Linked DNA regions of Homo sapiens. The protein of the gene in region 3 interacts with the protein of the main gene of each other region in a pairwise test. Each region holds a gene or a part of one and is shown on either strand. Other genes may lie near its edges.

Region 1 (4,614 bases), on a different chromosome or scaffold from region 3:
CCTGTGGTCCTAGCTACTCTGGAGGCTGAAGTGGGAGGATTCCCTTGAGCCAGGAATTGGAGGCTGTAGTGAAGTATGATTGCACCACTGCACTCCAGCCTGGGTGACAGAGTAAGACCCTGAATCACGGACAGAGGGTACTGTTGGGAGCCCTGGGGAGAAATCCATGCTCTTGGCTGAAGCTCTGAGATCCTTGTTGCTGTCAGGGTGCTGCCCCCCGCCCCCCGGGGAGGGGCTTTTGTCTTTGCATCGCCTGCTTTTCCAGATAGTCTAAAAAAAGACTTCTGAAGACAAGGACGTTCACGAGGAAAAACTTGCCATTTTGAGCTTTTTAAGCAGTTGCTGAAAGCTTGGCAGACTGCCTCAATTTTTCCTAAGTAGGCGTCAATGAAGTCAGGTCCAGGCCTTGGTGTGTCTGGAATGCTTCAAGCACATTCGAACACTTGATCGTAAGGGAGAGCCGGTACTTTGGAACCGGAACTCACCCGAGGCTGTGGCCACCGCATGGGCAGGCTAGCTGGGGGACAAGCCCCATATCTTTGGGAACAAGGGTTTGCACAGCCACCCTGGGATGCCCTGGGACTCCTGACCGCACAGGACCCCAGCAGGGAGGCCGCCTGGATTGGAGGGTCTGGTCTAACAGCCGGACTTGGTCTTGAACCGTCGCCCTGTCCCGCACAGGCGCCTGCTGAGCCTGGAGCCCTGGCAGAGGCGGGTCTGGGGAGTGGAGCTGCCAGGAGGCCTCCCATTTCTCACAGCCTTGGTGTTCTCCGGGTCACCCAGAGGACCGTCAAATGCTGGATTTGACAAACTATGTAGAATGTTCTTTGTGTCTTTAAGATCTTCTTGTGGTCCTATTTGGACATTTTGTGCATTTTCAGACACCTGCGGGTCACGTGGGTGGATGGGAAGCTGGGCACCTGGTGAGGGGTGAGGATGTTGAGAGCCAGAGCTGCGTTTTGTCTCTGTTGATGTGGCGAGGCCCTGGGTTGGTCACTGGGATTTTTTTTTTTTTTTGAGACGGTGTCTCGCTCTGTCGCCCAGGCTGGAGTGCAGTGGCATGATCTCGGCTCACTGCAACATCTGCCTCCCGGGTTCAAGCGATTCTCCTGCCTCAGTCTCCTGAGTAGCTGGGATTACAGGCGTCACCACACCTGGCTAATTTTTGTATTTTTAGTAGAGACAGGGTTTCACCATGTTGGTCAGGCTGGTCTTGAACTGATCTCAGGTGATCCGCCCGTCTCGGCCTCCCAAAGTGCTGGGATTACAGGCGTGAGCCACCGCGCCCGGCCGGTCGTTGGGATTTTAACAGCCCTGAGGCCCCTCACGCTGCCAGGTGCCAGCCCACCCTGCAGCCCTGCTCCCCTGCCCACACGCAGAAGCCACCAGAGGCTTCTGGACTGAGCCCCCACTGTCCTGCAGCCGGGCTGGCCTGTCCACACCACAGGGCGTGCTCAGCTACTGAGCAGAAGCGTCACGGACAGGGCAGATCAGGCCAGGACAAAGCTCTTCCGCCACAGGCGGGGGTCTGAAGGCATCTCAGAGGGCCCCCAAACAAGGGACGCTGCCTGGAAACCCCGGGACAAGATGACCTCGGTTCAGATCTTAGCACCTTCTGGCAACCTTAGAGAAAGCTTCTGGAGGGAGGGGCTGGTTCCCAGGATGGGCAGAAGCCGGAAAGTCTCAGACTGAGTGACCCTCGGGGGCTTCAGAAGGCACTGGGTGGGCTCTGCCAGAGTGAGAAGGCAGCTGATGGCTGCTGGAGCCAGCCCCGGGAGTGGGGGTCCAGCTATGGTCTGGAGAGGGGGACTTGAGGGTTGCAGTGGCCACACAGACGGGGCACAGGAGCCAAAGGAAGGGACACAGCAAAGCCCAAGGGTAAAACGGCGCGCCGTGGACTGGTCTGAGGGCAGAGGCTGTAGGGGAGCGAGGGGCGGTGTGGCTGACAGGTGGACACAGGGACACGTGTCCTGTGGACTTGGCCGCTCAGTGGGGGTGTGTCCCCCAGCAGTGGCGTGTGAGGGATGGTCACTCTGATGGGACACTGACCACTTGGCCTCCAGCAAGATCTAGGCCCAAGTCTAGGCTGAAGCCGCCCACTCAGCCCCGGGACATCGTCCCCGGCAGCTCTGCTGAGCACGCCAGCTCCGGCACTCTCCGGGAGTCATGGCCGGAAGTCAACTGTCCTGGCTTCCAGGGCCACACCTTGGCCAGGCCTGGTGATGGTCATTTCCAGCCGCTCCAGTTGGGCTGATGGGGCCACATGAGGCCGGGGATAGAAGGTGGCTGCGCTCAGACACCCCTCCCGGCCCCACTGGATGCCCAGGGCGCTGACCTGCAGGACTCGGATGGGTTTTCTCCTGCCACCCCTGCCTGGCCGGCCACCATCCCAGCGCCAGCGCCCTCCTGAGAGGTGCAGGGGCCGCGTGGGGCCTCCCAGAGTGGCAGGTTGGCAGCCTGCACGCCGGTGACGGCGTCCTTCTCCGTGGTGAGGCTTGGTCCCTCCTCGCCAGAAACACCAATTCTCTGACGTGAGCTGCACATCCACTGCCCAGCCATGTTTACTCTTCTGCCTCCTGTAGACGCAGCCGCGGCGGCTCTCCCTGGCAGGCCACCCGCCGTCCTGCCTTTTCTCCGGGTCAGGCCGCCTGTCTGCCGGGCTCCACGATGAGCGCGTTCTCAAGCTGAGCAGGCGCCAGAATCCCATAGAGAGGCTTGTTGAGACACAGCTTCCCCACCCCCAGCTCGGACGCAGGGGCCTGGCGTGGCCTCCTCACGGGCACGGTGTGGAAACACCACTGGCGGTTACCGTGGTCTGCCGGGTGCATGAGCCCCTGGGGTGGCCCCGTCCCTTGTTTCTGACCAGCCGGATCCTCTCCAGCGGCAGGAGCAGAGAGGGCCCGGAGGTCCAGACGGTGCTCTCTGCGGCCAGCATGCCGCGGAGGTGGCCGAGTGAGTGTGGCCCCTCCCTTGCAGGCTGACCCAGCTGGATGTTGACAGCCACCTGGCCCAGTGCTTGGCCGAAAGCACAGAAGACGTGACGTGGTGAGCGCCATCCAAGAGCCCTGCGCAGAGTGCGGCGCCCGGACACGCTCTCCCCCGCCAGCAGCCCCGCCTCTCGGCTCCCCCGCCAGCAGCCCCGCCTCTCGGCTCCCCCGCATGCGCATTAAAGCAGGGCGGGCTCCTGTCTGTCTCTGTGTTGTGATGAAACGTCTGCCGCTTTTCTTTCTGACGTTTGGTTTAGGGCAGATTCACTGCAGTGCAATCAGAACCAGACACAGCCCCAGGCGGGGAAGCTGACCCCTTTCCCCTGGCGCCCCCACTGTGGACAGCGGACGGGCTGAGGGTAGCTCGTTTTCCTAACTTTGTGGACAGGCGTGGTTAGCTCATGTGCAGTCACGGTTTTTTTTTTGTTTTTTTTTTTTTGAGACAGGGTCTCGCTCTGTCGCCCAGGCTGGAGTGCAGTGGTGCAATCACGGCTCATTGCAGCCTCAGACTCCTGGGCTTGATGATCCTCCCACCTCAGCCTCCTGAATAGCTGGGACTACAGGCGCGCGTCACCACACCCAGCGACTTTTAGTATTTTTTGTACAGATGGAGGGGTCTTGCCATGTTGCCCAGGCTGGTCTCGAACTCCTAGGCCCAAGCGATCCTCCCGCCTTGGCTTCCTGAAGTGCTGGGATTACAGGCGTGAGCCAGCAGCCCCAGCCTCTGGTGGCGTTCTTTTTGTTTTTTTTTTTTTTTTTCTTTTTTGAGACGGAGTCTCGCTCTGTCGCCCAGGCTGGAGTGCAGTGGCGCGATTTCGGCTCACTGCAAGCTCCGCCTCCCGGGTTCACGCCATTCTCCTGCCTCAGCCTCCCGAGTAGCTGGGACTACAGGCGCCCGCCACCACGCCCGGCTAATTTTTTGTGTTTTCAGTAGAAACGGGGTTTCACCGTGTTAGCCAGGATGGTCTTGATCTCCTGACCTCGTGATCCGCCCGCCTCGGCCTCCCGAAGTGCTGGGATTACAGGCGTGAGCCACCGCGCTCCACCATCGGTGGTGTTTTAATTCCCCAAAATGAACTTGCAGCTGCAGCTAGTTATGAAAAGGAAAGGCTCCTGCCACCGTGTGCTGCGGGCCTGTAACTCCCCAATCCCTAGGTTGAAATCCTCACCACAAGGCAAGAACTCTGCCAGGACAGGAGGTCGGGGCGGCGCCTCTCGATGGGATTAGTGCCCCATAATGGAGACCCTGGGGAGTTCCCTTGCTCCTTCTACCGTGGGGGACACAGGCCAGAAGAGGGCCGTCCTCTGGAGCCGAGAGAGTCTGGTTGAAGCCCCAGGTCTGTGGTCGTTTGTTAGGGCTGCGGGAGCTGAGACTCTCCGGGGGCTCCAGGGCCTCATCATTCGCCAGGGGTTTTGAGGCAGCTTCTCCTGAAATCCGGAGTTTCTGGGGAAGGACAGCAGCAGTGGGCATCTGGTTCACCCAGATCCGTCAGCCACCGTCTGCCTGGGCTCACAGTGTGAGTGGAGCACAGAAAGCAGCGTCTTCAGGGAGCTTCCTGTCCACTGCTGTTCAGCCCCCAGGTTCTGGAGAGCCGGGCTTTGCGGGCTCAGCTCTGACCCCCGTTTG
Region 2 (8,904 bases), on a different chromosome or scaffold from region 3:
ACACTCCCTCATTAGAAACACAATGTAGGCCGGGTGCGGTGGCTCACACCTGTACTCCGAGCACTTTGGGATTTTGGCTGAGGCAGGAGGATCACTTGAGCCCAGGAGTTCAAGACCAGCCTGGGAAACATAGTGAGACCCCATCCCTACAAAAATAAAAATAAAAAAATTAGCTGGGTGTGGTGATGGTGTACCTGGAGGCTGAGGTAGAAGGATTGCTTGAACCCAGGAGGTTGAAGCTGCAGTGAGCCATGATAGTGCCACTGCACTCAGCCTGGGTGAAAGAGTAAGACCCAGTCAAAAAAGAAAGAAAGAAAGGACAGCATAATATACATTCTCCTCTTAGAACACGCACTCACTTTCTCCTATTAAATATACAACTCAGTAAAAACATTTACATTTTCCTTTTAGAAATACAACCTAAGACAACACACTGACTCAGGCACACACATATACTATTCTTTCAAAAACAATCTGTATACACTCCCAACACACAGGTATATTCTCTTAGAAATAAAAACCAAGCCTGGGCGCGGTGGCTCACGCCTGTAATCCCAGCACTTTGGGAGGCCGAGGTGGGTGGATCAGTTGAGGTCAGGAGTTTGAGACTGGCCTGGCCAACATGGTGAAACCCCGGCTCTACTAAAAATACAAAATTAGCCAGGCATGGTGGTATGCGCCTGTAGTCCCCAGCTACTCATGAGGCTGAGGCATGAGAATTGCTTGAACCTGAGAGGCGGAGGTTGCAGTGAGCCAAGATCACGCCACCACACTCCAGCCTGGGTGACAAGAGCAAAACTCCGTGTCAAAAAGTGATAATATTATTTAAAAAAAAGAAAGAAAAGCCAACCCACGCAGAAACTAACTCTGTCTCTCCCACTCCCCAAATCACTCACATTCAGACCATCTCCTTGCACTTGACCGTGACACTCGCTGTCCCCCGAACTCACATGGCTCCCAAGCAGCCAACTCCCCACAATGTGCCCAACGCACCTCCAGATGCACACACTCCCAAGATTCACTATGGATCCCTCGCCAGTTTCCCTACTTCCTCTCCCTCCCACTCCAGGCCTGGCCAGCAGGGACTCCCACACCTACACGCCATGCACACACAAGTACTCAGATTCAGCTCCACTGTCGGAACAGAGAGCTGTGAATACGCGTGGAGGGATGCCACGTTCTCGCACACTTCACTCAAGCCACTGCATCCACCATAAGCAGCCCAGCGGTTTTTGCACATGTTGTACATGCACGATCACATACAGTAAGGGTCCTGTACGTTTTGTGCACCACAGACTTGATCGTCATTGATCTCTCCCTCTCTCTAGATATATGTATGTGTATATATGTGATGTATATATCAACCTTTAAAAAATTTAATTTTATTTTTTTGAGACTGAGTCTCGCTCTGTTGCCCAGACTGGAGTGCAATGGCATGATGTTGGCTCACTGCGATCTCCACCTCCCCAGGTTCAAGCGATTCTCCTCCCTCACCCTCCCAAGTAGCTGGAATTACAGGTGCCCGCCACCACACCTGGCTAATTTTTGTATTTTTAGTACAGACGGGGTTTCACCATGTTGGCCGGGCTGGTCTCAAACTCCTGACCTCAAATGATCCACCCGCTCCCCCCTTGGCCTCCCAAAGTGCTGGGATTACAGGCGTGAGCTACCGCGCCCAGCCAACCTTTTTTTAATTTTTAAAAAACTAAACTATGCCCAGCTAATTTTTGTTTTTGTAGAGACGGGGTATCACCATATTGCCCAGGCTAGTCTAGGATTCCTGGGTTCAAGCAATCCCCGCCGCCTCAGCCTCCCAAAGTGTTGAGATTACAGGTATGAGCCACTGCACCCGGCCAATCTGTGTGCTTGTGTATATCACACCATACCTATTCTCACACCTCACACACAAACATCATAAATGGTTGAACTCACAACCACACAGGTTCAAGAGTCATCCTGACAACCACAACCATTCTTCACACAATTTTGCCGATGTAAAACCTCCCTCTATAACCTCAGACACAGCCTTACACACACCACTCCACAGCCAGATTGACAACCACAGCAACAAACACGGCTCAACCACAGCCATCCAGCACTCGGGCTGTGTCCCAGACACACAGCAGCTCCCACACTCACACAGAGCCCCGGGTGCACAACCGCACAGCTGATAATCATAGGCACAGTCCCACACACTGATCCCTGACGCGGACCCCCTTTTCCATCCTGTCACCCGCTTGGAGGAGCATCCCACTTAAATGTCCACGTCTCCACTCCCATCTCCCACAAACTCTCCGTTGCACACCACTGCCAGCCACGGTATCAATGCAGATCACACACCCTCTAGTTCCTCTCTACACACACACACACACACACACACACGCACACACGGCTTCACACACCTCCACACCTCACTCATCCAACCCCAAGGTTCCACGCGCACCGTCCCATGAAACAGCTCCACTTCTGGACACAGTTCCGCCCAGCCCCATGCACCATCACAGTGACACACAATCAAAAGTCAATCATAGTCACCTATCACTGATCCAGTGCCACACTGTCCACCACACGCGCGCGCGCACACACACACACACACACACACACCAACAGGCAGAAAGACAACCACAGCCGCACAGCCTCTTGGTCAATCACACCTAATCCTACAACCAGTTCCACTCTCTGCCATGAAGACAGCCACACACACAGCCACACACATGCACATCAGGCCAAGCAGAAAGTCGACTACAGTCGCACTAGCTCTTGGTCGTAAAGTGCTACCAGCAATCCAATTCTACACACACACCATTCCAGTCAGAGGTCGCCCACGTTTTCACATTGCTAAAAGTGTCACATCATACACACAGTCCCATCACAGGGTTACACGGACAGTCGCTTTCACCCTCATACCCACAGCCTGACACACTCTCTTACACACACGCAAAGCCACACACACACACACACACACACACACAAACACAGGCAGGCAGGAGACTCCCATCGTGGCCCAGCCCCGCAAGCCGCACCAACTTACCCTGGCCTGCCCAGCCCCGCGCACCAGGCTCACCCGCAGTCACAAGGGCCCCCTCCCTCTCCCTCCCAGGCCCCGCCCCGTCCTCGCTGTTTACCTGCGCTGGGGTGGGGGGCATGGGACCCCAGCCAGGCCTCCAGATCCCGGAGAGCCCCAGGACGGGGCAGGGGGCATCCGGGAGCCCCAAGGCCCTTCCCCGTCTCAGGGCGAGCGGGCCCAGGGTTGCCCCCGCCCCCCATCATCGCGGCTCTCCGAGAGTCCCGCGCCCCACTCCCGGCACCCACCTGACCGCGGGCGGCTCCGGCCCCGCTTCGCCCCACTGCGATCAGTCGCGTCCCGCAGGCCAGGCACGCCCCGCCGCTCCCGCTGCGCCGGGCGTCTGGGACCTCGGGCGGCTCCTCCGAGGGGCGGGGCAGCCGGGAGCCACGCCCCCGCAGGTGAGCCGGCCACGCCCACCGCCCGTGGGAAGTTCAGCCTCGGGGCTCCAGCCCCGCGGGAATGGCAGAACTTCGCACGCGGAACTGGTAACCTCCAGGACACCTCGAATCAGGGTGATTGTAGCGCAGGGGCCTTGGCCAAGCTAAAACTTTGGAAACTTTAGATCCCAGACAGGTGGCTTTCTTGCAGTGCCTGCCCCAGAGCCTTTTCCTTGGTTGTGTGGCCTGCTTCGATCTCTCTTCCCACAGATCTCATCGTCTTTAGGTCTCTTCTCAAAGGCCACCTCCTCCGGCAGGCCTTCCCTGATTGCCCCCTTCTAAATGGCACCCTTCCACCAAAACATTACATACTCCTCTTGATTTTGTTCACAAAACTTTTCAGGGCCTAAAATTACCTTATTTATTTATTGAGAGGGAGTCTCGCTCCGTCACCCAGGCTGGAGTGCAGTAGCGCGATCTCGGCTCACTGCAACCTCCACCTCCCAAGTTCAAGCGATTCTCCCATCTCAGTCTCCCGAGTAGCTGCGACTACAAGTGTCTGCCACCACGCCCGGCTACTTTTTATATTTCTAGTAGAGACGGGGTTTCGCCATGTCGGCCAGGCTGGTCTCAAACTCCTGACCTCAAGTGATCCTCCCGCCTCGGCCTCCCAAAGTTCTGGGATTACAGGAGTGAGCCACCGCCCCCGGCCCCTAAAGTTATTTTATATAACATATATCACATCATTATGTTATGTTATATATTATGTTATTGGCAAGGGAATGTGATATCTAAGAATTGGGCTCAGGGTTCAAATTTGATTCCGGCACTTACTTGCTGTGCAGGCCTTGGGCAAGTAACTTAACCTCTCTGTGCCTCAGTTTCCCTAGTCAATAAAATATAAATAGTCTAAGGCTTTGAGAATTGAATGTTAACTAATACAGGGACAGTACTTTTTTTTTTTTTTTTTTTTTTTTGAGACACAGTCTCGCTGTGTTACCCAGGCTGGAGTACAATGGCGCTATCTTATCTTGGCTCACTGCAACTCCTGGGTTCAAGTCATTCTCCTGTCTCAGCCTCCCGAGTAGCTGGGATTACAGGCGCCCGCCACCATGCCCAGCTAATTTTTCCATTTTTAGTAGAGACGGGGTTTCCCCATGTTAGCCAGGCTGATCTCGAACTCCTGACCTTAGGTGATCTGCCCACCTCGACCTCCCAAAGTGCTGGAATTACAGGCGTGAGCCACCGCGCCTGGCCAGGACAGTACTTTTATCAGGGCCTCGCAAATAGAAAGTACTTAGTAAATACTCGCTACTGACTGTATATTATGGGTTCACTTTTTCTCCTCTACTATATAAGCTCTGAGGGCAGGGCTGTATATTGTCAGCACTGTTATCTTCAGCAAGAGCTTGATGCAAAGTCGGTGCTCAATAAATTGTGACTGAATGAAGGAATCAAGTCCTAGAATAGTAAGCTGGCCAAAGCTGGGAGGACACGATTCTAATATAACTTGAGGACGGCGCAGTGGCTCACACCTGTAATCCCAGCACTTTGGGAGGCCGAGGGGGCTGGATCACTTGAGGTCAGGAGTTCGAGACCAGCCTGGCCAACATGGTGAAACCCTATCTCTACTAAAAATACAAAATTAGCCGGGTGTGGTAGCGCACGCCTGTAATCCCAGCTACTTGGGAGGCTGAGGCAGGCGAATCGCTTGAACCCCAGAGGCAGAGGTTGCAGTGAGCCGAGATCACACCATTACACTCCTGCCTGGGCAACAAGAGCGAAACTCCATCTCAAAAATAAATAAATGCATACATACATACATGGCTCAATGCGCGCGGTACCCCGGTCACTACACTATGAAATGCTTCCAGCAGAGGGCGCTGCTGGTCCGTGGACCAAACTCCAGACTCGGCACAGCTCCGCGCTCCCTCCGAATTGCAGCCAACGTGCCCTCTACTTCCCTGTTGTCTGAGCCCCAGTGCTGATGCTTCCTCCTCCAGGAAGCCCTTTCTTATTTCCCAGGTTTCCAGGCTCTTGGGCTCCCACATCCAGCCCTGCCAACTCTGGGTCATCAGTGTGGGGAGACAGGTCAGTCCCATATTAGACTATGAGCCCCAAGAAGGGAGGAGGCGGCCAGGGGCCATGTCAGTCTCCACTGTGTCCCCAGTGCCACCTAGCACAGGCCCAACGCAGAGAAGGCATTTGGGAGAATAGGTGCTGATTGAATCATGGAAATAAAAATTCAAACTCATATCCTAACTACTCCAGCATTTTTTTTTTTTTAAGACAGTCTTGCTCTGTTGCCCAGGCTGGAGTGCAGTGGCACGATCTTGGCTCATTGTGTAACCTCCGCTTCCCAGGTTCAAGCGATTCTCCCGCCCCAGCCTCCCAAGCAGCTGGGATTACAGGCACCCACCATCATGCCTTGCTAATTTTTATATTTTTGTAGAAATGGAGTTTCCCATGTTGGCCAGGCTGGTCTTGAACTCTTGACCTCAGGTGATCCACCCACTTCGGCCTCCCAGAGTGCTGGGATTATAGGCGTCAGCCACCATGCCCGGCCTACTCTAGCTTTTTTAAAAGACAGGTGTCACTCTGTCACCCAGGCTGGAGTGCAGTGGCAGTCGTAACTCACTGCAGCCTTGATTTCCCGGGTTTAAGCAATGCTCCCTCCTCAGCCTCCCAAGTCCCAGGTAGCTGGGACTACAAATGCACCACCATACCCAGCTACTTTTTGTTGTTTTTTGTAAAGATGGGGGTCTCCCTATATTGCCCAGGCTGGTTTTGAACTCCTGACCTCAAGCGATCCTCCTGCCTTGGCCTCCCAAAGTCCTGGGATTACAGGCATGAGCCACTGTGCCAAGCTCCAGCTATTTCTTTCTTTCTTCCTTTTTTTAATTAAGACAGCATCTCACTGGGAGTGGTGGCTCATGCCTATAATCCCAGCACTTTGGGAGGCCTAGGAGGGCGGATCACCTGAGATCAGGAGGGCGGATCACCTGAGATCAGGAGGGCGAGACCAGCCTGACCAATATGATGAAACCGTGTCTCTACTAAAATTACAAAAATTAGCCGGGCTTGGTGGCATGGGCCTGTAATTCCAGCTTGTCAGGAGGCTAAGACAGGAGAATCACTTGAACCAGGGAGGCGGAGGTTGCAGTGAGCCAAGATGGCGTCATTGCACTCCAGCCTGGGCAACAAGAGCAAAACTCCATCCCCTAAAAAAAAAAAAAAAAAGACAGTGTCTCTGTTGCCCAGGCTGGAGTGCAATGGCATGATCTCGGCTCACTGAAACCTCCATCTCCCGGGTTCAAATGATTCTCCTGCCTCAGCCTCCAGAGTAGCTGGGATTACAGGTGTGCACCATCACGCCCAGGTAATTTTTATATTTTTAGTATAGACAGGGTTTCGCCATGTTGGCCAGGCTGGTCTCGAACTCCTGACCTCAGGTGATCTACCCGCCTCGGCCTTCCAAAGTGCTAGCTCCAGCTATTTCAACAGCACAGGATCGAGGGGCAGCAGAGCCTTCCCCCTGCCCCCCATTTTTTTGGCCTCACGACGCTGGACATTGGATCTGGATCTGCTACACGCTTACCACAGGCAGTGCAGGGACTGGAGCCAGGCCAGCAGGGACAAATCTCAGCTGGGTCATTTGCTAGCTGTGTGACCCTCTGAGCCAAGAAGTAACCTCTCTGGACCTCAGATTTCTAGTCTGTCAAACGAGACTCACAGGGTACCCTACTTTAAGGCTGTGGTGAGGATTACTGTATAATCCCCCAGAAAAGGCTTAGAACAGGGTAGCACCCGGTAAATACTATGTGTGTTGGGGGAGGGCAGGGGATGGAGCCGGGCGGGGAGCCAGGCAGATCTAGGTTTAAATCCTGGCCCTGCCATTTCTGTTCCATGTAAACCGGGGGAACAATGATCTCTGGCTGAGCCTCTGTCTCCTCGTCTAGTAAAATGGGGATGATCACACTCATCACACAGCATTGAGGTGAGACTTAAATGAGATAAAGATTGAAAGAAGAAGAAAGTGTTAACTAAGGAAAACCTTTCTTGCTTTTGTTGCTGCTGTTGTTGTTTTTGTTTTTTTGAGACGGAGTCATGCTCTTTCTCCCCGGCTGGAGTGCAGTGGCACAATCTCGGCTCACTACAACTTCCGCCTCCCAGGTTCATACAATTCTCCTGCCTCAGCCTCCGGAGTAGCTGGGACTATAGGCACGTACCGCCATGCCCAGCTAATTTTTGTATTTTTAGTAGAGACGGGGTTTCACCGTGTTAGCCAGAATGGTCTTGATCTCCTGACCTCGTGATCTGCCTGCCTCGGCCTCCCAAAGTGCTGGGATTACAGGCGTGAGCCACCACACCTGGCCAGGAAAACCTTCCTTTAGGCCAGCGGTGTTCCAAGTACTTTTGCACAACGCCAACAATGGCTGATGTTTGAGTTCTTACCCCAGACTGGCCCTGTGCCAACTCCTATATACAAATTGTTAATCTTCACACCAGCTGCGATGATTCGCTCCATTCCACAGGTGAAAAAGATGAGGCACAGAGAGGCTGAGTAACTTGTCTTAGGTCACACAGCCAAGGAGTAGCAGAGCCCCAGAATCTTTGTAGCTGACCCCCCAAGGTAGGCACTATTACCAGCCCCACCTAAAAATGAGGAAACTGGCCGGATGTGGTGACTCATACCTGTAATCCCAGGGCTTCAGGAGGATTGCTGGAGCCTAGGAGTTTGAGACCAACTTGGGGAACATAGGATGAACCTATCTCTACAAAAAAAAATTTATTTATTTATTTTTTTTGAGATAGAGTCTTACTCTGTCGCCCAGGCTGGAGTGCAGTGGCGTGATCTTGGCTCACTGTAACCTCCGTGCCCTGGGCTAAAGCAATTCTCCTGCCTCAGCCACCTGAGTAGCTAGGATTACAGGAACCACACCTGGCTAATTTTTTTGTATTTTTAGTAGACATGGGGTTTCACCATGTTGGCCAGGCTGGTCTCAAACTCCTGACCTCAAGTGATCTGCCCACCTCAGCCCCCCAAACTGCTGGGATTATGGGCGTGAGCCACCGGGCCCAGCCTGTTTATTTTTTTGAGATGGAGTCTTGCTCTGTCGCCCAGGCTGGAATGCAGTGGCACGATATCAGCTCACTGCAACCTCCGCCTCCTGGGTTTAAGCAATTCTCCTGCCGCAGCCTCCTGAGTAGCTGGGACTACAGACATGCGCCACCACCCCCGGCTAATTTTTGTGTATTTTTAGTATAGACAGGGTTTCACCATGTTGGTTAGGCTGGTCTCCAACTCCTGACCTTAAATGATCTGCCTGCCTTGGCCTCCCAAAGTGCTGGAATTACAGGCGTCACCCACCTGCCAAAAAAAATTAAAAAAAAAATTAGCCATGTGTGATGTGTCACACGTGGTCTCAGCAACTCAGGAGGCTGAAGCAGGGGGATTGC
Region 3 (8,891 bases):
CTCTCAGCGTGTATATAAATCAACTCAAAATGATTTAAAGCTTTAAAATGAAGACCCAAAGCTGTGAAACTACTAGAAGGAGACATAGGGGGAAAGCTCCATGACATTGTTCTGGGCAACGATATTTTAAAAACAGGACCTCAAAAGCAAAGGCAAGAAAAGGAAAAATACACAAATGGGATTACATTGAACTAAAAAGCTTCTGCACCACAGAGGAAACAATCAAAGAGTGGAGAGACAATCTATGCGATAGGAGAAAACATTGACAATCTATGTATCTAGTAAGGGGTCAGTTTCCAAAATGTAACTCCAACAACACAATAGCAAGAAAACAAATAATCCTATTAAAAATGAGCAAAAGACCTGAATAGACATTTCTCAAAAGGAGACATACAAATGGCTAACAGGCATGTGAAAAAACACTCACCTTCTCTAATCATCAGGGTAATGCATATCGGAACCACAGAGATACCGAGTCACGCATGTTAGAATGGCTAACATTAAAAAGACAAGATATAACAAGTGTTGGCAAGGATGTGGAGAAATTGGAAGCTTTATGCACGGTTGGTGGGATGTAAATTGTTACAGCCACCATGGAAAACAGTATGGACATTCCCCAATATTTTAACAATGGAACTATCACACTATCCATGAATCCCACTACTGAGCATGTATCCAAAGAGAGTGTCATCAGTGTGTCAAAGAGATGTCAGCACTTCCATGTTTGTTGCAGCCCTATTCACAATAGCTATGAAATGAAAGCAATCTAAGTGTCCATCTACGGATGAGTGTATAAAGGAAATGTGGTATAAATACACAAGGGAATGCTATTCAGCCATAAAACAGAACAGAATATTGCCGTTTGAAATAACCTGGATGAACCTGGAGAATGATATGTAAGTGAGATAAGCCAGTCACACAAAGACAAATACTGCACGGTCACATTCACATGCAGAAGATAAAAAAGTTGATCTCATAGCAGTGTAGAGTAGAATGGTGGTTACCAGACGCTTGTGTTGTTAGGGTGGACAGAGGAATGAGAAGATGTTGGTGAAAGAACATATAATTACAGTTGTATAGAAGGAACCTTTTTTAACTGTCCAGAATATATACAAACAGAAAGTGGATAAGTGATTTCCTGGAGCTGGATGTTGTTGGGGGAGGGGACAGTTGGGGGAGCACGAAGAGCTTCCTTTTGAGTAATGAAAATGTTCTAAAGTTGATTGTGGTGATGATTGCATAACTCTGTGAACAAATTAAAAACCACTAGATTGTTCCCTCTAAGTGGGCCAATTGTATAGTCACGTGACTTATATCTCAATAATGCTGTAAAAGAATGAAAGACATAAAGCAAAGGAAAAAGATGGTATCAGACGAAATACTACAAGGGCTTCATACACAAACTTTCCTATTACAAATCTAATTTTCCTACCATAGAGATAGCCATAAATATCCCTATTGTATCAGTAGGTCTAAGAAATAAAACTTACTGTAATCTCATGAAGACCCTTAATAATTCCAAATGAATGATGAGACTGCTTTTCCTTTCTCATATGTGCAAAGATTTCAGATCGATAGTATTGTTGTCCTTGCCTATATGGGCAGATGGGCAGTCTCACCTCCTATTGCTGAGAGAATCAATTAGTACAATAGAGCTAAAGAATAATTTCATAATAGCCACTGAATGGGCAAATATCTGGGCTCAGGTGATGTTGCCAGGACTCCGTAAATCTGCAAATGTTATTGAATTGTACCCTTAAGAGAGTTTTGTGGTTGGTGAATTATAATTCCATGAAGCTCTTTTTAAAATATTTACAATGCACATGGCTTGACATAGAAATTCCACTGTTTTGAATGCACACTACAGAAAATGTTTTTTTACCTGATAAGGGAAGTTGTAAGATTATAAAGAGTTCAATAATTATTATTGTTACTCATATTGTTTAAAGACTAGAATAATAGATAAGTAAGCTTTTATGTTTTACAGCACAAATTACTACAAATATTACAACAGAAGAAGCTACAGCTTCAGAGGAGGGGGGCTTCAAATTGCAGTCTACATCCACTCTACGGATCACAGCAGAGATGTCGGATTAACTCAAGAAAAGAAAGATGGAGAAAGAAAGCCCACTGGGATAAGACACAATTCCCAAACTCATGCACATCTCACCTTGATTGCTCTCAATCCATAATGTGGTTTATCTTCTTCCACAACCACATTAACTTTTTGTCCAACTTTTAGAGGCACGTTGCCAGTCACAACATCACTACTGAAGTAGATCGACTCATCAATCATGCCATAATCACCACAGAAACTTGTGACAACTCCCTGCACAGTTGTCAACTGGGTGTCACCTACAAGATAAAGAAACAAGGTCACATTATTAGCCTCAAATGCAAACACCTACTACAAGTAAGTCTTACACTCACCATCTGCATAACCCTGGGCAGAGAAGTTTTATAACGTCTCTGACCTTGTTTTCATCTGTCAATCCACAACAATCACAATTTCGCCTAATAGGGTTGTTGTAGGTTTTTAAAATATTTTTAAAAATTTATTAAAATTTAAAAATTTTAATTTTTAATTATTTTTTAATTTTTTGAGCAGAGTCTGGCTCTGTCGCCGGGGCTGGAGTGCAGTGGCGCAATCTGGGCTAGCGGCAACCTCTGCCTCCTGGGTTCAGGTGGTTCTCATGTCTCAGCCTCCCCAGTAGCTGGGACTACAGGTGTGTACCGTCACACCCAGCTAATTTTTGAATTGTTAATAGAGACGGGGTTTTGCCATGTTGCCCAGGCTGGTCTCCAGCTCCTGGCCTCAAGTGATCCACCTACCTGGAACTCCCAAAGAGCTGGGATTACAGGTGTGAGCCACCGCGCCCAGCTTACGAATATTAACTGACACATGCACATCAACTGTCGAGAGCTCTGAGTGCCTTGCACAAGAGTGTGTAAATGTTACCTGTTAGCATTTCTACATATGAGTCTTTAAGCTTCTGCTCCTATTATATTCCTTCATCATTATCACCAACATGATGAGTAGCACCTTCTATAGATACTTAACCATCTCAGCAGACAAAGTACTAAAAGATATCTGGAGATTGAAGGCTAGCCCAAAACGGCATCTGAATGGTTTTCTTTATTTCTCCTTCTTCTTCTTCTTCTTTTTTTTTTATTCTGCACAAGCCTAGCTGATCAGCAATACTTAGGGATCAAACCTCAGCAGTCGCCGGCAGGGGTTCTCTGCCTTCCTTTGGGATCAGATAAGTATGAGGCATCAACTTGGCTTCAAATTACATTCCCGTTTGGGATACAAGCCTAAATTAACTCGCAAATTAGGGAGTTTCTCGCCTACTGGAAATATAAATAGGCATGTGCTGTGCGACCACGTGGGGGAAAAGCACAGGCGGTACAGACCCCAAGGTCTTCTCTGTCAACACCTTCCCGCTTTAGATGGACAGGAGAGTTTGGGGGTTGGTTCTCAGGGAATTGTTGAGGACTCGGGTTGCCTCGGGTTGCCTCCCCATGCACGCACAAGATGGAGCCACCGTCACGTGCAGTACCCACCCGAGTTACAACAGCCTCATTCCGGGGGTGAGGAGAACCCCTATTGGGAGGCTTCTGGGGTGGGGGACAAGGGGACACACAGAGGAATACCTTGTGGGAGGCCCTGCTGCTGTGGGCCCTGTCGCTCTGCAGGGTCGGCCGTCCTCCCGTAGAAGGCCAAAGCAAGTCTCAGAAGCCTGAGCATCGTCCCAGTTGTCACCACCGGCCTGGGCACCGCTTGTGGCAGATGAAGCACGAGGCCTCCTCAGTAAGGGAAGCCCTCAGGTCACGGCGTCTCCTCAGGGACTCACTTCCTGCTTCTCCTCAGACACTGTGGCATGGGACCCACCCGTTAGTGAGCCCCCCTCAGGAGAGTCAGGGACACCGCAGCCTCCAAAGGAGCTCCCAGCTTCTCCGCTGACTTCTCCCTCTGAGCATGCGCTCGTCAGGGCCCGCCTCTACCACTGTCCAACCAATGGGCGTGCAGTGGGTGGGCGGGCAGGTTCTTGTGGCTACTAAAAGGCGATGGGTGGGAACATCGTGGCTTCTCCCATCAAGGCTGAGGGAGCCATTAGGATGGCCTGGGGAAAATGGCTTGGGAGCTTGGGTTCTGCATTTACTAAGGAGATACAGGGCTCTTCTCTTGGGTTCCCTGGGAGGATGGGTGCCTGAAACACCGGCTGTGCAACCAAAAATCCTGCTCCTGCCCTTGTATTCGTGGTGCTTAGCATAAGGAGTCACCACTCAGTGGGCGGTCAATAGTTACTCCTCACCAGGGATCAATTTTGTGGAGAGAGGGCATCATGTGGGTAGGCAATGTTTTAGTGATGGCAAGTACGTGTCTTGTGTACTAGGACTGCCATTTTTAGTCCAGTGATAATTTATAATAGAATCCTTTTATGATCATTGCTACCATGTACTCATCGCTTACCTGGTTATGCTTACATTACTCTGATATACACATTACCCTTATTCATTCATTCAGCAAAACTTGTAGGGCACTAACTGTGAACCAGACACTGTTCTGTGTTCCTAAAATTTGTTAATGAATGAAAGAGTCAAGAATCTTCACCCTGTGAGGGTAGATTTTTCACAGGATGACGAAAGGGTGACACTAAACATCACATAATAAAATATATGGTATGTTAGAAGGCAATAAATGCCATGGAAAAATATAGCAGGACAAGGGAGATCCACAGTGCTGGGCATGGGGTATTGGATTGCACTTTACAATAGCATGGTCAGAGTAGCCCTCATTGGAAAGCAATAGTTGAGAAAGATGTTGGAGTTAGCCAGGCAGCTATTTTTGGAGGAGCCGTTCAGACGGAGGGCACAGTTTGTGCAAAGACCATACAGCAAGACTGTGCGTGATGTATTCAAAGAAAAGCAGTGATTAGAGCAGAGGCAGTGAATAGCTAGAAGAGTGGGAAGTATGGTAAGAGAGATAATAGAGGTTCAGGCTGCATGTGGGATAGTGGGGCACTGGAAGTCCTTTGGCTTTTATTGTCCATGACACGTAAAGTCCCTGAAGGATTTGGAGCCTCCAGGGATCACTCCAGGTGCTTGGTTGTGAACAGGCTGGAAGAGGTCAGAGCAGGAAGCAAGGAGAACAGTTTGGATGATTCTGATGCAATCCATGGGCACTGTGGATGAAACCTGTTTGTCTTTCCTCTCCTACTGTGAGAACAGGTAAGAGCATTGCTGAAGATTATCATCTGGTTAACAGGATCGGTTGAGGGCTATCTATGTCTCAAAATGTAACACAACTGTGTTAATTTCCTAGGGAGGCCACAACACATTACTACGACTGCGTGGCTTTAAACAACAGAAATTTATTCTTCTGCAGTTCTGCAGGCTATGAGTCTGAAATCAAGGTTTCCGTGAGGTTGGTTCTTTCTGGCAAGCTCTGAGGGAGAGTTTATTCCAAGATTCCGTAGGTTGCCAGTAGTCATCGGTTGGCTTCCTTCGGTTGTAGATGCATCACTCCAATCTCTTCCTCCTTCATATCATGGTGCTCTTCTCCATCTGTCTGTGTGTCCAATACACCTCTTCTTATAAGGACACCACTCACTGGATTAAGGGTATATGACTAATCCCAATCCTGTAGGACCTCATCTTAACTTGATTTTTTTTTTTTTTTTTTTGCAAAGACCCTATTCAAAATAAAGTCACATTCACAGGTACTGGAGCTCAGAACCTGAGCATATCTCTTTCAGGGCAAAATTCAACCCACAGCAACTGCTCTTGTAAATTTTGATTACTCCAATATTCTATGATTATCAATGAAAAATTAGGACACACAGGTAAGCACACATTTCCTCTTATTTCTCTGAGAAAACACAGGCCATGAAACAGGAGCCCCTCTGTGAAACTCCTGGCACCCATCCTGGCTTTCTCTTCCTTCTCTTTTGTAACAATGGAAGGACATCGCAGCCCCTGGCCAGGGCTGAAACTCCACTGAGCACATGGAACCATTCTCTTGACACATTTTCTCTGAGGATGTTGCTTCTATTGCTGTTGCCTCTCTTCATCCTGCATCAACAATCTTTTTTTTTTTTAATCTTTGCCTGCAAAGGAATAACATACAAACATACACAAGAATCACCCATCTTAAAAACTTCACAAATAACTCCCATCTTAAAAATGTACATAGATAAATAAGCTTCCTTGGCCTCATTTCCCCTTCAGTCCCATTCTTCTGCATCCTGTCCCCCACAGCAAATGCTATTTCAAGAATCACCTCTGCTCACTTCCTGAGCTCCCATTCTCTCCTTATTCCTCTGGCATTAGGCTTTTACCCACATCATGCCCCTAATTTGCTCTTAAGATGACAGGAAACCTCCAGGTCTCCAAATCCAGTGGTCAATATGCTAAGCTCTCATCACTCAACCTCTCAGTGTTTGACGCAGGTGAGGACTCCCCATTTCTTGAAATAAGTTCTTTGGTCTTCTGTGTGACCACTCTCTCCTAGAAAGACTCCTTCTCAGCCTCTTTTGTGAGAAGTTCCTCCTATCAGGATTGCACAAGAGTGCTCCAGGACTCAGACCCTGAATGGCCTCTCTATCCACACACCAGCCCCATGGCATCTAAGTGCACGTACTCCCAATTCCATATGTATACTGAGTTACACACGTGATTATCCCATAGACGACTCAAGGGTAAGGTGTCCAAAATTTCATATGTCCTGAGCTTCCTTCAACCCCTTCACCTCCATAAATCTTCTCCATCTCACACGATGTCAGCTCAGTTCACACAGTGGGTTAACATCATATCCCTGCCATAACCCTTAGTTTTCTCCATTTTCTTTACACACTCCATGCCATCCATCAGCAAAAACTATCAATCCTTTGAAAACATACCTGTAGTCTCACCACCTCTAAAGAATGATTGAAAAAAAACATCACTGGGTCAAATGTTTTAGTTTCCATCATGGCACAGAAGAAAGCAGAAAGAACCGAAGAGACAGCAGCCACTCAGACATATGAAAACATGCCCAAAACCCTTTCATGTGTCCCTGCTGGCACAAATAGAGCTAATAACGGATGCTGCAGCAAGAGATTGGTGCTAAGAAATCGCCTTAGAAAGAGGTAAGAAATAGCCTTCTCTGGCAAACTTCACTAAGTCAGACTCAGCCTCCTCTGCAGGGTTCAAACTCTGTTGGCAGAGAAGCTACAGGTAGATTCCAGCACCAGGAAGACAGGTCCCTGCTGAGAGAATACTGCAGAACAAAGAAGGGGCTCTTCTATACCAACCTGCTGGAAACACTGTGAATGATCTTTGTGGTAGGAGGTGCCTCCAGAGGCCCGGAACACATCAGATAAGAAATGGCTGCTGGACCTGAATGCCAGGGGATGAATTCCACTGGGCCACAGAGCAGCTGTGCGCCCCCTCTTTCCTGTTTGTGTCCCTGACTTGGCTGTTGAATGGACACGACGCTACTGGGACTTCTTTCATAGGATTCTTTGTGAGCATTAAATGACGTGTGTGTCCCAAGGCCCTTAGCCCAGTGCTTGGCATATACAAGGGCTGGACACAAAGTAGATTAACAGCAATTCTGAACAAGGATGCCATGCACCCCATTAAACCTTCTCACATTTTAACTGTCTCCCATGAACAAAATGCACACCTTCACAAGTATCCATGAAGCAATCATTCAGTGCCAGATTCCAGCAAAGATATAACCATGTGATTCGCCTTCTTGGCTTCTAGTGACCTGCATGTTTCACTCTCAAATCAGGGAAACTGACTCCGACTGAAAATATTGAAAACCATCTGTCCGTGGTCACTGCCCTCAAAAACCTCTTATCACAAACACCTGCTTACTTTTCTTTCTGTCACTAACTGCTAGACGGAAATTCTTACTTATTCATATGCTTATCAGAGTATTTATTGTCGGTCTCTTCCCACTTGTATGTCAGCTTCATGACTGCAGAGCTTTTGTTCGTGGTTGCTTTTTCCATCTGCTGGGCCTTCAGCATCTAGAACAGTGCTGGGCACACGGTAGGTTCTCAATAAATACCACAGCAATTAATTGAATCAGAAAAGGGTAACATCCTGAACCATTCCAGCAACCTGAGAAAGGATCTGGTTCTAAGGCAATTCACACCAAATCTGAATACTTTGCTTTCCTTTGTGCATCTATCTAAACAGTACTGGGCCTCATTCAGAATAATGTTACAGCTGGCTGTAAACGTCAGAACTGTGGTTCGGAAGACGTTAGATCCCAGCTCAACTCAGCTGTTTCCTGGCTTTGCAACCTGTCCTCAGGGTCTGACACAGCAGCAACTTGTAAGTAAAATCAGCCAATAAATTGAGTTTTCTTGCAGATCAGTGATCCAGCCTCCCTCGTGCACATGAGTTGCACCATGGAGTAAAATGTTACTCCTTTCATTACAAAAGCTACACTGGAAATAAGTGTTGGACTAGTGTTTAGACAAATATTTCTATAAGAATAGAGTGACAAGGCTTTAAATGACATGTATCAATAAGTATATTATTCATTATGATTTAATGGATAGGGACAATTCCCATCGATGGGAATTTTGGTTTCCTCATGTGATGGGAGTTTTTCCAATTCATATCTTTGTTTTTCAAAACACAATAAGTGTTTGGATTGCTTTTATTTGTTACAGAATGTCAATGTCAGCTCTCCGTTGTCTTAGCTTTGTCGGCTATAACAATATACCACAGACATTTATATTGCACAGTTCTGGACGCTGGCAGGTCCAAGAATAAGGTGCTGACTGATTCGGTTCGGGGCAAGGGCCCTCTTTCTGGCTCAAAGATTGTCAAATTCTGGCTGTTTCCTCCCATGGAGGAGTGGGAGCAAACAGTGGCTTCTCTTCCTC
Region 4 (8,918 bases), on a different chromosome or scaffold from region 3:
TCCTGCTTTCCTTGTTTCCATAAAACTTACTACCTTCTACTATAGTATTTATTTACTTCATTAGAACATAAGCTCCATGAGAGCAGTGATTTGTTTTTTTCATTGCTGTATGATCAGAGCACAGAACAGTGCCTTACACATGGAGGCTGTGATATATTTCTTGAATGAATGGATTCATGAATGAATGTCTATCAGGCAGTTAGATGAACTTGTCTAGAGCTCAAAAATAGAATCTATGAATCTCCACAGAAATTCAAAGGTTCTATTTTTACCTATACACCAGTGACACAAATGGGTATCTCTAGGAGACTTCTGTGATTAGCCTAGGGAGAAAAATGTAGAGTGAAAAGACCTTGGACCAAATTTAGAGAAACCCCATCATTAATGGCCAGGTAGAGGAGGATGAGTCTGCAAAAGAAACCAGAAGGAGCAAATCAAGACAGAAAAAGAACCAGGAGAGTTTTTTGAGAAGAAAGCTGAATGCAGATGACAGTTCACGTAAGAGGACGACTGAAAATGTCCATTACATTGAGCGACATAGAGCCTGAGCTTACTGGTGACTTTACCAAGAAGCTACTCAGTCAACTTGCTGAGCCTTACCACACAAGAAGAAAGCCATAAACAAGACACATGGTTTGGGCTTTGTGGACCTACTAGCTTAGTGTGGAATACAGACATTACATTACATAATTACAAGTATGATGACTACCACTGAAAGAAGAACCAGTGTCCTATGGGAGCAAATAAGAGTGAATTAATCTGATCTGAGAGACTGAACAAAACTCATTAACCTATCATTTATTTTTATCATCTTAAAAGAAGGTCCGTCTTTAGTACTTTATTAATAGAAAAGGCTCAAATTAAGTTGGCTACATATAATTTACACTCCCATATGTTCTTCTATGGCTGCTATCTCCTAGAAGAAAATCTCAAGCTTTTAAGGTTTTTTATTTGAAAACACAAAATCTGTCTTTAACAACATTTTTTCAGCCTCGAAGAGTAAGAATGCAGCTGCAAAACAACATCTATCCATTCCCAATGTCCACTTTTTAAAAAGCTAGTACTTTATTCCATAGTAAAAGTGTTAAAACTGGTTAACAGTATGGCAAAACTGAGTGTGATAAAACAGAATTGGTTTGCCCATATTCTAGTTAAGCAGAAACCAAACATCTCCTATAACATAACCACATACATTAAAGTTGAATGTAAAATCACTAGCTGCTAAAGACCTACTGGATGATAAAGACCTACTCCCAACGATAAAGATGATAAAGACCTACTCCCAATAAGGTTTTATTTACTTCAGTGGAGATTTAAATATATAGGAATCACATTATACTCGCATACTTGGCAGAATTCTTTGAATAAATTCTTGGTTCAAAGTACAAAGGAAAAAATACATACATACATGACTCTGAATTTTAGAGACATACCCTTACAGGTTATAAAAATGTAATCTGAAATTCAAAAAAAGGATAATTATTTTAAGCAAAGAGGTCCAGGGGAAAAAAGAACATAGTCTAGGAGTTCTTCCTAAAGATAATGAGAATTGATTATGAGAAAGGGTACAGTGTTGGGGAATTTCTGGGTACTTATAAATGAACACTCTTGGAGCCCTAAATAGTACTACCAGTCTCCTAGTTATTAAGTACCGCTGTCATCTTACACACGTCACCTTCTAAATATATGCCGTCTTTCCCTTTAAACACTATTGGACCTCTTCTTCCCTATCTCCAAAACAATATATCCTAGTTCAAACTTTTTCACCTTACCCCACCAAAGCCCTGAGTTTGAGGTCGGAGAGCTTTGGGTTCTAATCCCAAATCCGCCACTACTCACAGTAACAGCTAAGAGACCTTGGCCAAGCTGCTGAACCTGTCTGGCCTCATTTTCAAAATAAAGAGAATACCTCCCACAATTGCCCTTTTCCAGGTCTCTGCCCAGTACCTTTCCAATTCCCTTCCAATCACCGTCCCATTTAAGCCTACCCGTCTCGGCTCAAAGACCACTTTCTTCGAAAAGTCTGACAAGCTTTTCATCTTCCAAATGCCTTAATAATGCCTAACCACATTTTTTTCTCTTACAATTCACTTGGCAGGAAACCATGCACCGTCTTGTGATCTTCCATGCACTGCTGACTCAAACTAATTGGATTGTTTTTGTTTTTAACTTTAGGTAGGCCCCCTGAGGACACCGGCTGCATCTCATTTCTTTAAAAAACATTTCCTGAGAGCTTACCCTGGGCCAAGCACTGGGGGTGCAAAGGTTGACACAAGGGCCCTTACTCTCATAATCCAGTGGGAAGTTCACAATCCAGTGGGGAAGACAGACAAAAGTGATTACAGATGAGTGTTAAGTAACGATACAGCATTAAGCACACGTTACTAAGGGCAGGTAGTGGAAGATGCCTGTCCCTGGGGGTCCTGCCCCTGTAGTCTATCTTGGAAGTTTAATGACACAGGCGGGAAAGGGAAAGGAAGGAAAGAGAAGCAGCAAAAAGGAAAGTGAGAGAAAGCACTCCAGCCATGGCACAGTGGCTTACAGAAAAGAGATAATCTGTAAACAGTATCTAAGTTAACTGTGAATCTCAATTGTCTACATTAGTATGGGAGCCTGGAAAAAGCAATGGGCAATTACGACTGAAAAATCACTAGTAGCTGATAATGAAAAACACTAAATAATTTCCCTCTAGCAGAAGACTTACCTTACTAACTTGCTCTGTTTAAACTTGGGGCGAGGAATGGGGAGGTGTGTTGTGGGGATGGAGGGCTGGCTGAGCGGCGGGACACAAGGCCCCAAAGCGAGGGTGGTGGACCAGTGACCGCCCGATAGAAAGAGGAAGACTAACGGGGGAGGCTGGGGGCAGGTGGCGCTGCCCGTGCATCTACAGCCGGGGCTGGCGACGGGGGAGCCACCCACTGGGCCCTATTTGGGCCCGGCGACACCTCCACTTGGGCAATACTGGGGTAACCGAGGGGAGGATGTTTCCCGAGCTGTAGAAAACCAGGACGTAAAATTGAAATCCACCTGAGCCATGCAGGAAGATCAGAGAGGCGCTATGCCTCCCTGCCGGCGACACGATACAGCGCTGCAGAACCGACCCCGACGCAGCCGCCATCGCTGATGCCACTGCCAGTCATGCGGTTCCGCCCCTGCGTTGCCGCGCGGGGCCGCGCACGCAAATACGCAGGCACGCGCGGGAGCACGCCCGGGAGCGCGCATGCGCAGCGCTGCTGGCCCGCTCTCTGAGGAGCTTTCAATACTTTGGGGTCAAGTTTGAGGCAGTTGTAACTGTACTGAGTTTAGTTTTGCTAATAATGGTATTCTACGTGTGTCAGCCTCGTGTGGACTTCTGTAATGACTAATGGATATGTTTATATCCTGAGCATTTGCTGTAGGAATTTTAAATGCAATCCCAAAACTCAAGATTACCTTATTTGGAGAAATATTCGTGTTACTATGTTTAAAATTTAATAGAACCATATTTTACCTTTCACTTTGGGACTCGCACAGGATGTTTGCAGCTCTTGATATACAGGGTAAGCGAAGCATATAATAATAAGTTCTCTTCGTGTCTCTTATTTTTAATAAATAGTTTACAAAGCAAATCTAATTTAATGAGATTCTGCTTTATATACCCATTAGAATGGCTCTTATCAAAAAAACAGAAAATAAGTATTAGTAAAGATGTGTAGAAATTAGAAACCTTGTGCATAGCTGATCAGAATGTAAAATGATGTTGCGGCAATAGAAATAATTTGGTGGCTCCTCAACAAGTTAAACATTGACTTAGCATAGGTACTAGCAGTTCCACTTCTAGGTATATACCCAAAAGAGATGAAAGCAGGGACTCAAACAAATACTTGTACTTCAGTGTTCTGTAGCAGCATTATTCACAAGTACCAAAAAGTGGAAACAACTCAAATGTTCATCTACAGATGGAGAGATAAACCAAATGTGCTATGTACATATTGGAATGGAATATTATTCAGCCTGTAAAAAGAATGTGATTCGGATACATGCTACAACATGGATGAACCTTGAAAACATTATGCCGAGTGAAGCCAGACACAAAAGGACAAATAATTGTATGATTCCACTTACATGAGATATCTAGAATTGGCAAATGCATAGGGACAGAAAGTGAAATTAGAGGTTACCAGGGACTAAGGGAAGAGGGAGTTGGGAGGTTGTTGTTTAATGAGTACAAGAGTTTCTGCTTAGATAGTGAAACATTTTTAAAAATGGACAGTGATGATGGTTGTACAACAGTGTTAATAACTGCCAGTGAACTATACACCTAGTAAATTTTATGTGTATTTTACCATAATTTTAAAAATACTAAGAAATGGAATTATTTCCTGTATAAAGTCCAAAACATAGGTATCTTTTAATACTGAAGGCAGTGGCCCCAGCAGGTTGCTCTTGCCTCATGTAAAATTCAACAAAATAACCCAGTAAAAGCTTAAGTACCATTAAACACTGGCCTTCCATTCATTGTAGTCTGCATTACATTTTAGCAATTACAACTTACCTTTTATTTGTTCCAGGTAATCACCCTACTTACAGGTAAGTAAACTGTTTACTATCAACATTAGTTGCCAAAATCAGCTCTAAGCTATCATGGTGTTATATTAATAACAATACCATCAACAAGAATGGTCCTACATGCCATTAGTTAACCAAATCAAAAAGAAATTCTGAGTCATTTCTCCAAAGCCCATAGATCTGCAGCAGAGAGTTGTATAAGTGAAGTCCCTGAGGAGGACAAACTAGGGTAGGCTGAGCTCTGATAGCCAATTCTTAAAAGAAAAACCTCTGTCTTTTGACCTGCCTTCCCCGTATGAGTTCTAGATAACCTTCCCTAGCCAGGTGAGAAGAGGGCAGTGCTACTAGGAAAGACCACTTGGAGATATACAGGGAAGGCTTTAAGTTCTACTCTTAGAACTCCATTTACTACCTGAAAATCTTACTGTACACCACCCCACGCTTTTGAGACAGCAAAAAATCAGAATATAATTATTTAAGAGTAATGATTATTAATAATAATAAGCAACTAATATTCATGGGATTCAGTAGGTGCCAAAAACTGTCATAAATTAATTCCAATAAAACTCAGTACTATTACTATCTGCTTTTGTCAATGAGGCTCAAAGAGGTAAGGAACCTGGCTCAAAGTCATAGTGCCAGTCAATTGTAGAACCTGGATTCACATGCTGGGCTTGACTCCAGAGCATAGGTTCTTAACTATTACCCACATTTACACATGAGTGCACAGAAATGAAGCAAGGGCATGTCGCAACTCTTATTTCAAAAACAAAAGTCTGGAATTTGTATTGTGGCCCTTTAGAGTCTCTATTTATTAGGTGTTCCTGTGCTTCTTTAGTTTTTCCCAAGTCTACTGCTATTAGTTCCTGATTTGTTCTTCCAACTATTCTACCAGTTTAAACAGGTAGATAAGCAGGTGGTAAATACCAGAAGCAACCTTCTGTATTCTGAATTTCACTGAGAACTCCAGCCTTCCCAGATTCATTATTAGAATGAGCCAGATTCTTCCACACTTAACCAAAGTGCTATTTTATTTCCAGTGATTTAAATGCTTAGCTATTGTTGCTATTCCTTTCATCTGTATTTGTTTATAGGACAAGCAAAGGTTTTAGATTACCTATATTTAGAGATCCCATCTGGTAGGCAAACTGTTGAACAAAAATGTTTTGTTCCTTTCATGTTACTGTACTACTTTGAAATGTAATTAAGTTTCAAGATGACTATTTGCTTTTGTGGTGGATCTTTTGCCCTATTGAAGGTGGGGGAATATTATCACTGGAAGATTCCTATTCATACATTCTTTTACTCTTTATATAGCTCCTAATTATTTTTTGTTGCTACTCATTTGCTTTCTGCCAATCTATATGCACCTCCTTTTGGTAACTTCAGTTCTAAACTTAAAAAAGCAAGTAAACAAAATAAAAGAAAAAGAAAAAGTTCTCCTGTTTTGCAGGGTTTCAATATCAATTAGGATCTAACGATATAAATGGCAAAGTCGGAGTTTAGTTTACTGTTCTTCAGTGTGTTGAGAAATGCTTTAGGCCACACTTAGTTTTCAAAACAGAAAAGCAATTGAAAGTTCAGCCATTAAGATTAGTATATTTTGCCTGGGTGCAGTGGCTTACTGTAATCCCAGCACTTTGGGAGGCCAAGGCAGGCGGTTCACTTCAGGCCAGGAGTTTAAGACCAGCCTGGCCAACATGGCGAAACCCCATCTGTACTAAAAATACAAAAAAACTTAGCCGAGCATCATGGCGCATGCCTGTAATCCCAGCTACTCCGGTGGCTGAGACACAATAATTGATTGAACCCCGAGGCAGAGGTTGCAGTGAGCCAAGATCTCACCACTGAACTCCAGCCTGGGTGACAGAGCAAGACTCTGTCTCAAAAAAGAAACAAAAACAATGAACAAGATTAGTATACTTGGTATTTTCAAATGATAACAGTTAAATGAAGTTGCATTTGTCACGCAGACAGTACACAGTTTCCCGTTTGTTGTTTGGCTCATTCTTAAGCATCAAACCATATCCTCTCTATTGGTTAGTTTTCATCTGTTGCATCATTCAGAGAGAGAGAAACACACACACACACACACACACACACACACACACACATATATATATAAACAATATATACACATTGCACAAAATGCTTCAGCTTCAGCTTTAGGTAATTTAACATTTTGTCATAGATAAATAAAATGATTTCTTTTATGCATTCCCCCTGTCCATTCATGAAAGAAAAACTAGAAACAAACTTAAAGGTCCTGAATTCTTACAAAACAGCAAAACTATACTTTTTATAAATGAGATTATAAACTTTAACATAATCATTGCCTCAGTTCTGGGGACCTTAATCTTTTTCAGTCCAGTCTTTCCAGATACAGATATGGGTCATTCCTCTACTTTACCTTACTACTAGATGTGCATGGTCTCATTCTCTTTTTAGAGCAGATGGGTCACGTGGGGCATTGTGAGATGGACTGAGATGGCATTGGCAGTAGGGGTAGGGGAATACATGAGCTCCTCAAACACAGACCAAACGCAGCCTTGGAGAATGGATAGTGATTACTCTGCTGGATTATTAACAGTCAACATGATACACACCAAAGCAGTATGTAGGCCCTAGAGGAGGACAGTGAACTTTCCTCCCTTGGGTGCAGGCTACAGGGTCAGTGTTTATGCTTGGACACCAGAACAATGTTCTTTGCATTGCCATTTGTCTCCTCTTTTCTGGGAAATGGGTCTTCTTCCATTTGGACACCTCTTATGGCCAGTTCTCAAATTCCTAAGTTACCCTCTGGAAACACTTCTTATTCAACTTCCACTCAGTGCTTATATGAGTCTGAGGAATCCCTCCTGCAATCTTCATATTTGTCTCTGTACTCTAGAACCTATTACTTTTTTCTTCTATAACAAATTTTCAGGCTTTTGAAATCCAGGGCAAGAATCAACAGCAACCCCTAATCAGGTTTTGGGCCCTTGAGGGCAGGGAAGTTCAAATCCTACCATGAGATGAGGGGAAGTCATTGCATTGCATACGTCTATTACAAAGAAAAGAAATAAAAGCCAAAAGAGTAATTTCCTTATGAATGCAGTCAGAATATCTACTGTATTTTGCTACATTCATTTAAGAGAAGATTAGATAGGTAGATATAAAAAATGTTGAAGTAATGAAATGATAGGAGTTCCTGTTCCAGCCTCGGGGATGACAAGCTATGTAAATTAGACAGGCCATTTAGTCTCATTGGACACGTTTCTCCAATTGTGAAATAAGGGAGCAGGACTTGATGGAGAAGCCCCAGGTTCTGTCATTCTGAGATCCTGAAAGAATTTAAATATGTGACATGTGCCACTCATTTATGAATATACCTCTGATGTTTAACTCTACTTATAAAATAATGGTTCAAAACTCTTAATTGCACTACATAAACTTTTAGTTAGTAGTATGAGAAAGATCAGCACATGTGATTCTCCTTCCTCCTTGTATGGCTGAGTTTAGCAGCCTTAATCTCTTCCTACTCTTTCTGTGATTACTTTTAAAAGCCAGGAAAAAAAATTTAAAAAGACCTTTAAAAAAAGATAATTAGAAAATATAAAGTCAATTTTTGCAATTTGAAAAATGGAAGTGCACTTTATTCTGAAGTAGACTATTTTCAGGTTGTGTCTGTGTATGTGCATATTTCTCTGTGTATATATATTTATGAATATTTTCTATATATGTATAATTGGCATCAAGGTATGACAATGGATTTTCTTTTATTATAACTATATATGAAGAAAATCGAGACGCTTTGAAAAATCTACCTTAGTTTATATTTGAAAGGCAAATTAATACAATTATTTTGTCTTATCATATTTCCAAAGAATTTACTTTCTTATAGATTGATGGCAAAGTGTCAGTCTTCAAGAGCAGATATTCTTTGTGTAGGTTAAAAATGGATGCAGGTGTATATACCGAAAAGTATTGAAAGCAGGGGCTCAAAGATGTACTTGTACACTCATGCTCATAGCTGTGCTATTCACAACAACCAAGAGATGGACGCAACCCAAATGTCCATCAACAGATAAATGGATAAATAAAATATTATATATACATGTAATGGAATATTATTCAGCCTTAAAAAGGAAAAACATCCTGTCACATGCTACAACATGGATGAATCTTGAGGACATTATGTTAAGTTGAATAAAGCAGTCACAAAAAGATGAATACTGTATGCTTTCCCTTATATGAAATATCTGAAGTAGTCAAATTCATAGAAAAAAAAGTATAATGGTGGTTACCAGGAGCCGGAGAGAGGAGGAAAAGGGGATTAGTAGTTTAATGGATATAAATTTTCAGATTTGCAAGATGACAAAGTTCAGGAG

What was found.
Region 1: the proteins of CT55 (region 3) and FAAP20 interact in binary tests that used the Homo sapiens proteins (3 or more experiments, as listed by UniProt).
Region 2: the proteins of CT55 (region 3) and KLC3 interact in binary tests that used the Homo sapiens proteins (3 or more experiments, as listed by UniProt).
Region 4: the proteins of CT55 (region 3) and LYPLAL1 interact in binary tests that used the Homo sapiens proteins (3 or more experiments, as listed by UniProt).

What each region holds. Positions count from the first base shown.
Region 1 is NC_000001.11:2,188,144-2,192,757, reverse strand, and holds the end of FAAP20 (Fanconi anemia core complex-associated protein 20), read left to right. Parts: exon of another isoform or gene 1-2,960; intron 2,961-2,976; coding exon 2,977-3,049; 3' UTR 3,050-3,210; downstream 3,211-4,614. UniProt on the Homo sapiens protein: Component of the Fanconi anemia (FA) complex required to recruit the FA complex to DNA interstrand cross-links (ICLs) and promote ICLs repair.
Region 2 is NC_000019.10:45,335,255-45,344,158, reverse strand, and holds the start of KLC3 (kinesin light chain 3), read right to left. Parts: upstream 3,410-8,904; 5' UTR 3,313-3,409; intron 1-3,312. UniProt on the Homo sapiens protein: Kinesin is a microtubule-associated force-producing protein that may play a role in organelle transport. Plays a role during spermiogenesis in the development of the sperm tail midpiece and in the normal function of spermatozoa.
Region 3 is NC_000023.11:135,167,424-135,176,314, forward strand, and holds the start of CT55 (cancer/testis antigen 55), read right to left. Parts: upstream 3,976-8,891; 5' UTR 3,749-3,975; coding exon 3,655-3,748; intron 2,356-3,654; coding exon 2,171-2,355; intron 1-2,170. UniProt on the Homo sapiens protein: Plays a role in spermatogenesis, possibly acting in the regulation of the autophagy pathway.
Region 4 is NC_000001.11:219,168,091-219,177,008, reverse strand, and holds the start of LYPLAL1 (lysophospholipase-like protein 1), read right to left. Parts: upstream 3,132-8,918; 5' UTR 3,119-3,131; coding exon 3,028-3,118; exon of another isoform or gene 2,705-3,027; intron 2,049-2,704; exon of another isoform or gene 1,989-2,048; intron 1-1,988.